Homo sapiens: one gene and its partners. The gene in region 2 interacts genetically with the main gene of each other region. Each region holds a gene or a part of one and is shown on either strand. Other genes may lie near its edges.

The links.
Region 1: changes in OGFOD1 (region 2) and LIAS together harm fitness less than expected from each alone (positive genetic interaction), as found in Homo sapiens cells (one large-scale study listed by BioGRID).
Region 3: changes in OGFOD1 (region 2) and TUBGCP3 together harm fitness less than expected from each alone (positive genetic interaction), as found in Homo sapiens cells (one large-scale study listed by BioGRID).
Region 4: changes in OGFOD1 (region 2) and TCOF1 together harm fitness more than expected from each alone (negative genetic interaction), as found in Homo sapiens cells (one large-scale study listed by BioGRID).

The regions. Positions count from the first base shown.
Region 1 is NC_000004.12:39,465,556-39,469,055, reverse strand, and holds part of LIAS (lipoyl synthase, mitochondrial isoform 1 precursor), read right to left. Parts: intron 1,539-3,500; coding exon 1,410-1,538; intron 1-1,409. UniProt on the Homo sapiens protein: Catalyzes the radical-mediated insertion of two sulfur atoms into the C-6 and C-8 positions of the octanoyl moiety bound to the lipoyl domains of lipoate-dependent enzymes, thereby converting the octanoylated domains into lipoylated derivatives.
Region 2 is NC_000016.10:56,475,554-56,479,604, forward strand, and holds the end of OGFOD1 (prolyl 3-hydroxylase OGFOD1), read left to right. Parts: coding exon 1-12; intron 13-490; coding exon 491-652; 3' UTR 653-3,551; downstream 3,552-4,051.
Region 3 is NC_000013.11:112,581,654-112,585,153, forward strand, and holds part of TUBGCP3 (gamma-tubulin complex component 3), read right to left. Parts: intron 2,509-3,500; exon of another isoform or gene 2,386-2,508; intron 1-2,385. UniProt on the Homo sapiens protein: Component of the gamma-tubulin ring complex (gTuRC) which mediates microtubule nucleation.
Region 4 is NC_000005.10:150,364,197-150,367,696, forward strand, and holds part of TCOF1 (treacle protein), read left to right. Parts: coding exon 1-56; intron 57-3,500.

The sequences.
Region 1 (3,500 bases), on a different chromosome or scaffold from region 2:
ATGTTCATTTTTCTAAAATTTGAATGGATGTGGATAACAATCCTTACTTTTTTTCTTACATCAGTGTTACTTGCCAATGATTAGTCTTAATTACTGAAATTATTAGGAATAAGAAAGCATAGTGTCTACTTTTTTTAAAAAGTACATCTGAATGATATGAGTTTTTTTCTTTTTTTTTTTTTTTGAGACAAAGTTTTGCTGTCGCCCAGGATGGAGTACCATGGCACTATCTCGGCTCACCGCAACCTTCGCCTCCCGGGTTCAAGCAATTCTCCTGCCTCAGCCTCCAGAGTAGCTGGAATTACAGGTCTGCACCTAGCTAAAATTTTTTGTATATTTAGTAGAGATGGGGTTTCATCATGTTGGCCAGACTGGTCTTGAACTCCCAACCTCAGGTAATCCGCCCGCCTCGGCCTCCCAAAGTGCTAGGATTATAGGCGTGAGCCACGAGTTTTTCTTCTGCATCATTTATTACACATATTAGTGCTGAATATATATATATAAATATATATGAATATATATAATATAAAAAAATATATATATATATATATATTTTTTTTTTCCTTTCTCTTTCTAGATGGAGTTTCGCTCTTTTTGCCCAAGCTGGAGTGCAATGGCGCAATCTCACCTCACTGCAACCTCCGCCTCCCGAGTTCAAGTGATTCTTCTCCTGCTTCAGCCTACCGAGTAGCTGGGATTACAGGCATGTGCCACCACGCCTGGCTATCTTGTATTTTTAGTAGAGACGGGGTTTCTCCATGTTGGTCAGGCTGGTCTCGAACTCCCAACCTCAGGTAATCTGCCTGCCTCTGCCTCCCAAAGTGCTGAGATTACAGGCGTGAGCCACAGCATCCAGCCAAATATATTTTTGAAGTCTTTTCTTTAGAATTACAACCAAAGCAATTGCTCTAGTGTAATTTTTTCCCTCCTTTGAAAACTTTATTTGTGGGGAGGGGGAAACAAACAACTTATTGAAATTTGCAGTATGATATTATTTTAAAACAAAAGAAAAAAGATGTTAATTATTTGTGGGTATTAAAACACACACAGTAACTTAGTAATATGAGTTACTAACATCTTAATGTTTGTAATATAAAAATTAAGTATATTATAAATATAAAAATACAAATATGTAGTATAAATATAGTGTTTATAATATAAACACTAAGGTGTTAGTAACTGATATTGCTGGGTGGAAATACTATTATGGGTGATATTTATGCTGATTTTGTTGGTGATATTTTCTGATTTTTATGTAAGAGACATAGATTGAGTTTGCCTAAAAAACAAAAAAGAATAGAGTTTACTTTGTAAAAGTCAATGGCAAAGTTCAGCCCTGGAAAAGGCAAGAATATATGGCATATTTTGACCCGCCTAACTTCCCAACATTACTTTGTACACGTATTCACCTCTGTAATTCCGGGACTGTTTCTACATTATGTGCATACACATCTAATCCTGACAGAGCAACTTTTTCTATTGCTTTGAGATCACCTCGAAAATCAGGAGTAAGACACTCCACAAGGATTTTTGGATTCCTAAGGGGAAAAGAGAGAATTATCAAACAGAGAGAAAGAACTGACATACCTGTTCCTCAAAATAGAAATTATCAGTAATCGTTCAGTATGCTTCAACACAGTAACCTTTAGAACTTTGTCAAGAAAAGTATGAACATACAGATGTTCATACATGAACCATTATTAAAAAAAAAAAAGCAGACCGTTAAATACTATGTACACAGTGGTTAAAACACACCTGTAGGCAAACTGAATAAAATTTCAAATTATATATAGTAGACTTTTAAACCTAATTTAAGTAGGTTTTAGAAAAAGTAAATAATTGCAAGAAACTAAAATATGAAATATTAAAACATTAAATATAAAACTTTACTCATTGGAAAGTAAATTGAAGTATTTCTTATATAAATGTGAGTATTATTTGATTGCTTTAATTTTGATTTCTTTAAAAAGTCATCAAATCATGCTCTCCTCCCTTCCTCTAGGCAAATATTTCACAAGTGCTACGGGTTTTAAAAACTATTTTCTGGGTTGCTGAGTCATGAGCTTTGTTAAACGAAGTACGAGCTAAACATTAATCTTCCTATTTATATTGTGGCTATATCTATTCATCCAAGTATTATAATGTGAACTGGGTCACAGAGCTGTTCCCTTTGACACCAGCAAAAACGACTGAAACAGCTGACACATTTTTTCACAAACCCACTGGCAAAGTGTCTGGAGTTGTTCCCTGAAAGAACAGATGTAGAAAAGACCACATGTACACCCTTATCATGAATATAAGAGATATTCAAAGAACATATCCTATAATTTTTTTTTTTTAAATAAAAACAGGGTCTTGCTCTGTTGCCCAGTGCATCATAGCTCACTGTAACTTTAAACTCCTGGGCTCACGCAATCCTTCTGCCTCAGCCTCCCAAGCAGGTAGGACTATGGGCACATGCTACCACATCCAGCTATTTTTTTTTTTTAATTTATTTTTTGTAGAGACAGCATCTCCCTATGTTGCCCAGGCTGGTCTTGAACGCCTGTCCTCAAGCAATCTTCCTGCTTTGGCCTCCCAAAGTGCTAGAACTACAGGCGTGAACCACTGTGCTTGGTTCTATTGCTTTTTTAAACTGAAAGCTGAGACCCACTGAAGCTTGTAAAATAAACCTAGTGGATTGCAAACAGATTTTTCAAAAATGAACTATAGTAAATAGAAAATAGAAAATACTAGGGAATCATTTAAAAAATTTACTAAGTGCGCTTAGGTGCCAAACTAGTACTGAGCTGTAGAAAATTAGAATAATCTCAGCACTTTGGGAGGGCGAGGCAGGAGTATTGGTTGAGGTCAGGAGTTTGAGACCAGCCTGGGGAACATAGCAAGATTCCGTCTCTAAAAAAAAATGTAAAAACATTAGCCAAGCGTGGTAGTGTACCTGTAGTCCCAGCTACTTGGGAGGCTGAGGCAGAAGGATTGCTTGAGCCCAGAAGTTTGAGGCTGCAGTGAGCTATGATCATCAGGCCGCTGCACTCCAGCCTAGATGACAAAGCAAGACTGTCTCTTAAAAGAAAAAACAAAACAAACCCAAAAAAACAGGCCGGGCGTGATGGCTCAGGCCTGTAATCCCGCACTTTGGTAGGCTCAGGTGGGTGGATCAATTGAGGTCAGGAGTTTGAGACCATCCTGGCCAACATGGTCAAACCCTATCTCTACTAAAAGTACAAAAATTAGCTGAGCTTGGTGGCGTGGGCCTCTAATCCCAGCTACTCGGGAGGCTGAGGCAGGATAAATGCTTGAACTGGGAGGCAGAGGTTGCAGTGAGATGGTGCCATGCACTCTAGCCTGGGCAAAAGAGCGAGACTCCATCTCAAAAAAAAAAAAAAATCATTACTAAGAAGACCAGGTTTATACTTTTTAAAGAAAATTATTCAAAGTTTAGACTAATGCTCTAATATGAGGGAGGGATTCTATGGGCTAAAGGTCTATGGGTAAGTTCA
Region 2 (4,051 bases):
GAAGATGAAGAGGTAAGTTTCTTCTGATAGCAAACTATCATTTTTAGTTATTGAGAATGCTTTCATTTTTCAAAGACCCAATTTTTATGACCTTCTACCAGTGTCTTTAGCTAATAAATCTCTGCCAGGCAATGGTTCTAATTTCTAGTAGAAAATACTCAGGATGGAATAAAGATGCTAAAGGATACTCAGTAAGCATTTATTTTACCCTCCTGAGAAATTCCAAATTAAGAGCCATGTGGTGCATTCCCACAAATCTTACAATGTAGTAAGAAATAAATGTAATAGGTAAGTACCTTTCTAGGTATATGCTGGAATAGGGCTTGTTGGAAAATGGCTTGACAGCCACCCCTAGTAAGTGTTCATTCAGAGGACCCCTCTATCCCCAGATTAAGTGCTTGATATGGAAACCATCTGTTCCATGGTTAATCATCCAAGATTTGAGAATAAGTTCTGTGTTCTGATGTGTCACTGTATTTGTCTTTTTCAGCTGCTAACAGTGAATCCAGAAAGCAATTCTTTGGCATTGGTCTACAGAGACAGAGAGACTCTGAAATTTGTCAAGCATATTAACCACCGAAGCCTGGAACAAAAGAAAACCTTCCCAAACAGAACAGGTTTCTGGGACTTTTCATTCATCTATTATGAATGACAGCACTGGGCAAAGCTGAACAAAAATGTGACCCTTCGTAATTACTGGGAAGTCTGAAAGAGCTAAGCATGGAGTCAAGGAGAACTACATGGTAGCTTGCCTGACAGTGTTCTTAAAACTGGTTGTCTTTTACTAGGACTCATAATGATTGTCCTCAACCGAGACCTTGAGCTTGCAGCTAAGTACTTATCTCTTGATTAAAAAAAAAAAGTTGGCTTTTTTTTTTTTAACATTTAGTCCTTTTTCCATATTGGCTTCTTCAGTGAATTTTTAAGTTCAATTTGTTTTTATTGAGGTAAAATATTTATAACATAAAACTGACCAGCTTACCCATTTTTAAATATGCAATTCAGTGGATTAAGTACATTCTCATTGTTGTCCAGCCATCACCATCATCCATCTCCAGAAGTTTTCCATCTTCCCAAATTCTGTGCCCATTGAACAATAACTCCCCACCTCCCCTTCCCCTAGCAACAGCCATACCTTTTGTCTCTATCATCAACTTCACTACTCATATTTCTCATGTAAGTGGAATCATACAGTATTTGTCCTTTTGTGACTGGTTTCACTTAGCATAAAGTCTTTAAGATGCATCCATGTTTCCAGTGTTTCGGTTTTTTTAGAAAAACTCATACGTGATTGCAGCCGGGCATGGTGGCTCACGCCTGTAATCCCAGCACTTGGGAGGCCAAGGCAGGCGGATCACCTGAGGTCAGGAGTTAAAGACCAGCCTGACAAACATGGAGAAACCCCATCTCTACTAAAAATACAAAATTAGCTGGGCGTGGTGGCACATGCCTGTAATCCCAGCTACTCAGGAGGCTGGGGCAGGAGAATTGGTTGAACCCAGGAGGCGGAGGTTGCAGTGAGCCGAGATTGTGCCACTGCACTCCAGCCTGGGCAACAAGAGTGAAACTCTGTCTCAAAAAAAAAAAAGAAGAAAAAAACATAAGTGATTGCAGAATTTTGTTCTTCTCATAATTTCTGGTTTAGAAAATTATGGAGCCTTACATCCTGATCATGCTGGGCCTTAGAATTCTGACACAGTGAGTCATCACATTTCCTCCCACTGCCTGTGGCCTTGTTCCACCATGACTCTCACAGTACAGTGTAGGCTTAGTGTAGTATTATTCCCTTGGAAAGGGTCTGGCCTACCATCACATGCCCCAAGAAACTTCTGGTTGGTAAAGAAGATAGGCTGCTTATTGCCATGTGTAGTCACTTCCAAGTGCCCACTGCCTTTCCATCCTGCAATTGTGGCCTGTGTATAATTAAATGATTTTAGCCTCACGTGTTGCTTCTGTTTTCCTAAATACTGTAGGGTCAACTATATAACTAATTGCTTTTTATTTTAAGAGACGGAATGCTAAAACCACATCAGAATGCCAAGAGGCTGTGCATCTTGTTAATTTTTTTCTTGAACTGTTCCAGGGAGTTACATCATAATTACCTGTGTGTGGGTATGCATGGGTGGATGAAAGATGCTGTTCTCATTCCATCCCAATAGAGTCTTCTGTTTCCTTTCTCTTTTTTACATTTATTTTTAGCTTTTGCAGTAGTGTTTAGTGTGGGTTTTACTAATTAATAGAAAAAGCACTGGGCCTTTAAACTTCTTAACTACTCTTCTCTTTCATCTCCTAAAACTTTTGAGTATTCATTCTTTTCTGAAGTTTGCATTTAAATGAAAATGACTTTCGCTTTGGCTTTTAGGTTTAGTTTCAAAAAGGTTTAATTCTGCACCCTAGCCAGTTAAGAAATGTTTTAGCAGGTATGCCCTTGATATGGATATTTATATATTTTACACATGTAGTAATATTATTTCTATAACTTACTGTTATAAAACACTAATTTTTAAATGATGAGATAAAAAGAAATATCTAGAACTAGTTCTAACATTGTCTTCCCCTATGCATATGGTAACGAACCATTTTACACCATACTATTTTGGAGACCACAATTTTTTTTGCGTTTGAGATGGAGTCTCACTCTGTGGCCCAGGCTGGAGTACAGTGGCATGATATCGGCTCACTGTGACCTCTGTCTCCTGGGTTCAAGCAATTCTCCTGCCTCAGCCTCCTAAGTAGCTGGGATTACAGGCACCTGCCTCCATACCCAGCTAATTTTTTTATATTTTTAGTAGAGACAGGGTTTCACCATGTTGGCCAGGCTGGAGACCACAATTTTTTAACCACAGTGTAGCAACACTCAAGTGGGATTGCGAATACTGTTACTAATGGTTAATGTCACAGCTTGCCTTTTCTATATTCCAGCTGACTAAAGGTCATCTCACTCACTTGCCTTCTGATGTGTTTTCATGAGTTGAGGGGAAAGGGTGTCAGTGGCATAACTTCAGGAAGACCCAGGGAAAAGTGCTTGGGTAGGTGAAACTGTCATGTGTGCCAAGCTTGGAAAATAGTTTGAGACTCATGGCTGTAGGCACCATCCAAGGCCAATTTTCCAATTCTGGAAAGCCAAATCTGAATCTTAGAATACCTCACAAGTGTTAAAATGTGCTTTTTAGTGTCTCCTTTATCTCAGTGTGTTTATGATCTGTCAACACATAATCATCTTTTATACACTACAAAAAGGGACTCGGGTGTCTGAGGGGAGAGAATCCCTAGGAGCCCAACTCTGATGTTGCTGTCAGTTACATCATCTACAGCAGCACCTCTTAGATTGTGAAGGATGGTGTAACTTAAAAGATTGTGTTTCTGCACTGAAGATAGATACACAGTGATAGTGAAGTTTGTTTTCCTTATAGTACTTCATTTTGCATCTTGATTGCTTTTTAGGGCCTGGGGCCAATGTCAACAACTCTTAGGTAGCAAAAGAAGAATTAGAACATGGGCATCTTTTTTATACCTCTTTCAGATAAAAGCTATGATGTTCACCTGTAAAATATATGGTTTCTCTCTTTATTCTTAATAGTGAGTCTCCAATTCTTATAACTCCCATTTTTATCCCCAAAGAAAATAGCTCTATGGGCCCGGCATAGTGGCTCACACCTGTAATCCCAGCACTTTGGGAGGCCCCGAGGCTGGCAGATTACCTGAGGTCAGGAGTTGGGAGACCAGCCTGGCCAACATGGTGAAACCCTATCTCTGCTAAAAATACAAAAATTAGCTGGGTGTGCTGGCACGTGCCTGTAATCCCAGGTACTTGGGAGGCTGAGGCAGGAGAATCGCTTGAACCCAGGAGGGAGGCAGAGGTTGCAGTGAGCCGAGATCGCACCACTGCACTCCAGCCTGGGCAACAGAACAAGAATCCGTCTCAAAAAAAATAGCTTTCTGTTTTTTCAGACTATATAAATAACACATGCTCATTGTGAGGTAATAACATGTAATATCTAAGGATCACCTGAAATCCCACCATCCTATGACAGCCACTGGTAGCTTTGTC
Region 3 (3,500 bases), on a different chromosome or scaffold from region 2:
CAGGCTGGTCTCGAACTCCTGGGATCAAGCAATCCTCCCGCCTTGGCCTCCCAAAGTGCTGGGATTACAGGTGTGAGCCACCGTACCCAGCCAGTAAAAATTATTTTTAGGTTACCATTTTCACACTCAAGTACATCACATAAATATCCCCAATCCAAATGTTTTATATACTTTTCAACTTTCTCATACCAAAAAGTTAGGAACTCTTCAATGCCAGAAACACTCTCCTCTTCACCTCCTCACTTTCTCTGCACCTCAGATGGATGTCATCATTTCACCCCCACTTACCTCTTCAGCCACACCTGAGTCTCCCTGTCCTCTTACCAACCAAATTTCCAGTTTATCCTTCTTGCTGATTATAAAATATTTTTAAAAATCCAACTGTTACCTCTTAAACCAAATCTACTTAATCTGTGCTTCAGAGGGAAAAGCACAGAATCCAGACTACTAAAGAAATTAGACATAGCAATCATTCCTTGTTTAGTGAACCTGCAATCAAAGAATAAGCTGGGAAAAAATCAAGCAATGTCCACTACACGCTTCTGGTTTAAATACTCCCAAAATACTGTTCAGTGTTTAAAGTATAACTAAACTCAATCAGTAATTCAATGAATAACTCCTAAATACTTACTACAGGCCAAACACGTCAGGCCCTAACAATATGATGTACAGTGGTTAATGAGACAGACGTAGAACATAACAAATGTGGCACATAAGTACCCAAGGCAGACTGTGATAAGAGCGTCAAAGAAAATGAGGGCACTATGACAGCTCATGACCAGGAGGACCTCGTGAAGTAGATGCTGAGGGAAGGCCTTGCAGGAAACACCGTTAGCCTGGCAGCCAAGGCTGCCACGTGAGGAGCCCAGGGACCAGAGAGGGGAACCCACAGGGAAGGGCGGCACTGGACACTGCTGCTGCAGGGAGGCCGTGCCACAGGGCTCTAAATGCCACTCAGTCAGTCACTCCATCGAGAGCCCCAGGTGACAAGGTCCAGATGTAGATCTCTGATGATTCTGCTTAATGCAAGAGTGAAAAATAGAGTACTCCATTTTTTTGGCCACAAATCACCTAAGGAGAGGTCTAGTTCTCCCACCTCTAATCTGCTCTGGGTGTGTGAGGGGTGGGCAGTTCTCAGGTTCCTGGAAGGGGAGTGAACACTCCTCTGATGATCCTCTGAAATTATTTCAATGAATGCAAGGGCACACTGCCTGACCAGAGAGCAGTGCTGCTGAGTTGTACACTCTAAACACAAGAGCGGATAGAGGTGAGAAGCCATCCCACAAGCTGGGCCATGACTTATTGTCTCTATCGAGCACACAGAGAAATTCGCCATCAAATTCAACACTTAAAAGCCGGGGTGAATTAATTCAAAATATCAAGCTGTAGAATCAGAACTTGGGTTCCAACCTTGGCCCCGCAATTTACTAGCTCGATGATAGTGAGCAAACTACTTAATCTCTCAAAGTCTCAGTTTTCTCATCTAGAAAATGAGGTTCACCATAATTCTACCACAGTATAAGCACAACATCCAGCATATTTTAAGTTTTATATAAATGTTAGCTATTCGTATTGTTATTAACCTGAAAATATTAAATACATACTATATCTGCTACAGCCATTAGAATCACAACTCAAAAAATGCACCCAATTTTTAACCTTGAGCAAGATAATTTGGTCTTCATCTTGAAGACTACAAATAGAGAACAAATTAAGCCTTCAACAGATTCGATGAGATTGGTTTTCTAGAAAGGACCCTCTGACTGAAGAGGAGAAGAGGAACTAGAGGAGATACAAAGCCAAGGCAAGACCCTCAGCTGGAATTGCGTTCAGTCCCAAATGTGAAGGCTCCAGAGACACCTGGATGTGGGCCCAAGAGCTTTTAAACAAAAAAGTTGCCCTTTGTATCCCCAAAAGATTCTATATACACTCAGGTTAAAGATGACAACTGAACTTCAAGATGCACAAAAATAAATTCGACTCAAGTGAATACAGAAACTCCACAGTTGTGTGTTTCTCAAGATTCAAAAAACAACTGCGGAAAAGTTGAACTGTTTGGGGAGACCCAAGTTTCTGCCTTCCTGTTTCTTGTCGACAGCGTGGACTATATGTTCCACACTTCTGCTTTTCTGAAGGATGGGGGAGGGGTCAGGAGGGCGTTGGGAGTAAGCCACAGTGCTTAGTAGAGGAACAGAGCACATACACTAGCCACCCTTGACTCCAGATGCAAGTCAGAGTAACTTATCACGCATTTTAATGTTTCGGATGCCAAGCTCCAACAGACACCTACAGGATCAGAAGCCCTAGAGATGAAGCCCACAATATTAATTCTGAGTAAGTCCCACATTTAGAGAGTTTAAAATGAAAAGGCATGAAGTTAGATACCATAAAAAGTCCTGTTCTCAACCACTGGCCACCAGCTCCCCTTCCCACAGGCAATCAACGTTATCAGGTTCTTGTGAAATCACAGGCGATTCCAATGCATGGCTCTAGTTGAAAAGCAATGCTCTAAAACAACAAAAACATTACTCTAGATGCGTGGTTCTCAAACTCTTTGGTCTCAGGGCTTCTTTACACTATTACGATTGAGAACTCCAAAAAGCTTTTGTTTATGTAGGTTATATCTATCCACAGTTACCATATTAGAAATTTAAGCCAAAACAATTTTTAAATTTTAACTTATTGAAAAATAGTAAATCCATCAAGTACAACTTGAAACAAAGCCTGAAACTCTGAAGTTTTAATACACATCTAATGTATATCTTAATATACATGTAATACACATTGATCTTCCCAAGAATGTAATTATATAACCAAAGGAAGATCACATGGTATTTGGAACTTCATCAAAAGCTCTTTACCATTTTGGAAAATCATGAAACCAATAGCAACACCACTTGTGGTACTGAATCACCAAAACAATAATCCTTTATCTTCTGATAGTGGCTTGTAGGACACTCATAGAGGTCTTGCATATTATGGCAATCATCTTCGAATATGCTGTGTACTGTAGTCATACCTGAACATTTATGATGAAATACTTATCTAATATAAATTCCTCTTTATGTATTCTTTACCTCATAGTTAGAAAAAGGATTACAAAGTAGCTATGAAAAGAAGTGTTACCTCTGACAGATTTGAACATTAACATCAAGCACACTGTTTCCAATGATAAGAATAATTACGCAAAGACATAATAAATAAATGTGCTCCCAGGAGGGGCAGGGATATGGAGACAGGATTTGACTATGACTGGCTGGCAGTATGTGTTTCAAGCAAATTCACAGATGTTATAAGTTGGAAAAGGTGGTAAATCATGGTCATGCTAACTTTGTAAAACTGTCAAGCACCATTATATGTAGGTGCTTTGCTTCTGAAGGTCCCTTGAAGTCAACTGTATAATTTTTTAAAAGATACCTTATAAAAATGTGATTCATATGAAATTCTCATTAAAAGTAACAAGTACCTATTATGCCTTGATTTCATAGTACTAAAAAAAA
Region 4 (3,500 bases), on a different chromosome or scaffold from region 2:
CACCTCGGAGAGCTCGGAAGAGGAGGAAGAAGCAGAAGCCGAAACCGCCAAAGCCAGTAAGAGCCTTGCAGCTTTGGGAACAGGCTATGGAATATTGATTGTTCTAGGGTAGAGTCTACCTCCAGCTTCTTCTCTTATCACTAGAAGACCTAAAAGACCCTGGGGAGGAGATTGGGAGGGCACCACATATCTTTGGCAGTATTTGAGCCCTTCCTCCGTGCCAGGCATTATATCTCCATGCTCTGGGGGTGCAAGGCCGAACCAAAACAACCAGATGGGCCCTTCCAGTCTCATTTGGTGTATGGGGCCCAGGAGCTGCCCTATTACAGGCTCCCAGGTGATTCTTATTAGCTGGAAAGAAGACACACGTTCAGAAGTACTGCTGGAGGGATTTCAGAAAGCAGCTAGCGGACACATTTTCTGTGTGACCTGTGGGATGCTTTAGGAATTGCTGATCTTCATGTTCATTTAGAATTGTACCCATTAGCACTGGAACGCTGTACTGGGCACTGGTTTTACACCGTTTGCAGGAGTAACTCAGTCAAAGCTTTTATAGCCCCTTCTTCTCCTAAGGTCCCAGGGCTCCTTGTACTTTCCCCAACAGCAGCCATAACTCTACAGAGGAATTGCTGTGTCTCCTTTGCATCGTATTATCTTCTTTTGCTTACATAGAAGACACATTTCTTAATACTTATTTTTTATTTTTCAAGACAAAGTCTTGCCATGTTGTCCAGGCTGGTCTTGAACTCCTGAGCTCAAGTGATCCTCCTGCCTTAGCCTCTTGAGTAGGTGGAATTCCATGCACATACCACCATGCCCAGCTTCCTGAGTCTGCTTTTAAAGTGTTTGAGATCATACTAGGTATATATTTTATTATTTTTTTGAGACGGGGTTTCACTCTTGTCACCCAGGCTGGAGCACAATGGCGTGATGTCAGCTCAGGGCAACCCCCGCCTCCTGGGTTCAAGTGATTCTCCTGCCTCAGCCTCCCGAGTAGCTGGGACTACAGGCATGCACCACTACTGTCAGCTAATTTTGTGGGTTTTCTTTTTCTTTCTTTTTTTTTTTTTTTTTTTTAATAGAGACGGGGTTTCACAATGTTAGCCAGACTAGTCTCAGGTGATCCGCCCACCTTGGCCTCCAAAAGGGCTGGGATTACAGGCATGAGCCACTGCGCCCTGGATATATATTATATATCGCTTAATTTTACATTATAAATGCAAAACGAGTTCACTTTGAACTGTAGAAGAGCATATAGAAGAAAACTTAAAGGTTTTTTGTTGTCCTACCCTGTTCCCTATCATTCCTAAGTGCATCTCCTCATAGGTAACCTTTAAAACTTCCTCCTTTGCCTCTATATTCATTCAAACATGTATTCTTACATGCATATATACAGACCTGCATGCTATTTGAAACACAAATGGTAAAATTTCTTACTGATTGGCTATTTGGTATTAATCAATTTTATAAGCTGTGATAATGGAGGTGTAATTACATTTTTTTGTTTGTTTGTTTGGGGCTTTTTTTGATATGAGGTCTTGCCATGTTGCCTAGACTGGCCTTGAACTCCTGGCCTCAAGTGATCCTCCTGCCTCAGCCTCCGGGTATGTAATTTTATTTTTTTAAAAGTCTTCACTGGGTTGGGCATGGTGGCTCACACCCACCGGTAATCCCAGCACTTTGGGAGGTCAAGGTAGAAGGATCACTTGAGCCCAGGAGTTGGAGACCCGCCTGGGCAACATGGCAAAACCCTGTATCTACAAAAAATTTAAAATTTAGCCAGGCATGGTGGCGTGTGCTTGTAGTTTCAGCTGCCTAGGAGGCCTGAGGTGGGAGGATTACTTGAGCCCAGGAGGTCAAGGCTACAGTGAGCCATGACTGTGCCTGCACTCCAGCCTGGGCAACAGAGCAAGACTGTCTCAAAAAAAAAAAAAAAAGGAAGAAGAGTCCTCGTTGGCATCCTGGGCAACATAGTGAGACTCCGTCTCTGCAAAAAATAAGAAAATTAGCTGGGCATGGTGGCATGCACTGGTGGTCCCAGCTACTCAGGAGGCTGAGATAGGAGAATCATGTGAGTCCAGGCATTGGAGGTTGCAGTGAGCTATGAATGTGCCACTGTACTCCAGCCTGGGCAGCAGAGCAAGACCCTGTCTCAAAAAAAATTTAAAAACGCATCCTCATTGAGAGAGAAACATGCTGAAGTATTTGTGGGCAACGTGGTAGGATCTATGGCATTTTCTTCAAAGTAATGCTTGATGGGGAAGGGTGAGTGAGATAATACATGAGATGAAAAGATTGGTCACAAGTTGTTAATGGTTGGAGCTGCCTGGTTCTTCCTTTCTATTTACTACTTAAAAATTTTCCATAATTACAGAAAGAGAGAGATGGAGTGAAGTGCCAGGAAAAGAATTAGATCATGCCATTCATCTCAGCAACATTCTTCTTTTTTTTTTTTTTTTTTTTTTTTTTGAGACGGAGTCTCGCTCTGTCGCCCAGGTCGGACTGCGGACTGCAGTGGCGCAATCTCGGCTCACTGCAAGCTCCGCTTCCCGGGTTCACGCCATTCTCCTGCCTCAGCCTCCCGAGTAGCTGGGACTACAGGCGCCCGCCACCGCGCCCGGCTAATTTTTTGTATTTTTAGTAGAGACGGGGTTTCACCTTGTTAGCCAGGATGGTCTCGATCTCCTGACCTCATGATCCACCCGCCTCGGCCTCCCAAAGTGCTGGGATTACAGGCGTGAGGCCACCGCGCCCGGCCCAACATTCTTCTTAACAAAAAGAAATCTGAGATTTAAGGAGACAATACCCTGGTATAAAAGCACTGAGAAGCTGGGTGCGGTGGCTCATGCCTGTAATCCCAGCACTTTGGGAGGCCGAGGTGGGCAGATCACGAGGTCAGGAGATCAAGACCATCCTAGCTAACACGGTGAAACCCCGTCTCTATTAAAAATACAAAAAATTAGCCAGGCATGGTGGTGGACGTCTGTAGTCCCAGCTACTCAGGAGGCTGAGGCAGGAGAATAGTGTGAACCCAGGAGGCGGAGCTTGCAGTGAGCCGAGATTGTGCCACTGCACTCCAGCCTGGGCGACAGAGCAGGACTCTGTCCCAGTAAATAAATAAGCACTGAGAATCAGTGAATATCGATATCTAACGGGGCCCAGGTGGCATGGTTCAGCCACCTCTCCACTAAGAAGCCATTTGAATTCCAGGCAACTTTCTCTGTGGACCTGAGGCTGGCTGCCTGCCTGACCACTGCCCCTTCTTGCCGAACAGCTTTCAGGGCTACAGTGTGGTGGCCTGTGTGAATGGTGCCCATTGCAGTGTGCAGTGCCCAGTAGGCAGCAAGAATGTGGGCCAGTCCTTTTCCCTCCAGGGGCCTCCACGTCTCATGCTGCGGGGGAGTTGGGAATCCATCAAGGATGCAGACACATAGCTTCATGTTACCATCCTCTTCTCTCTTGCTCCTGGTGGACCTGGCTGATGCATCACAGAGCTCATT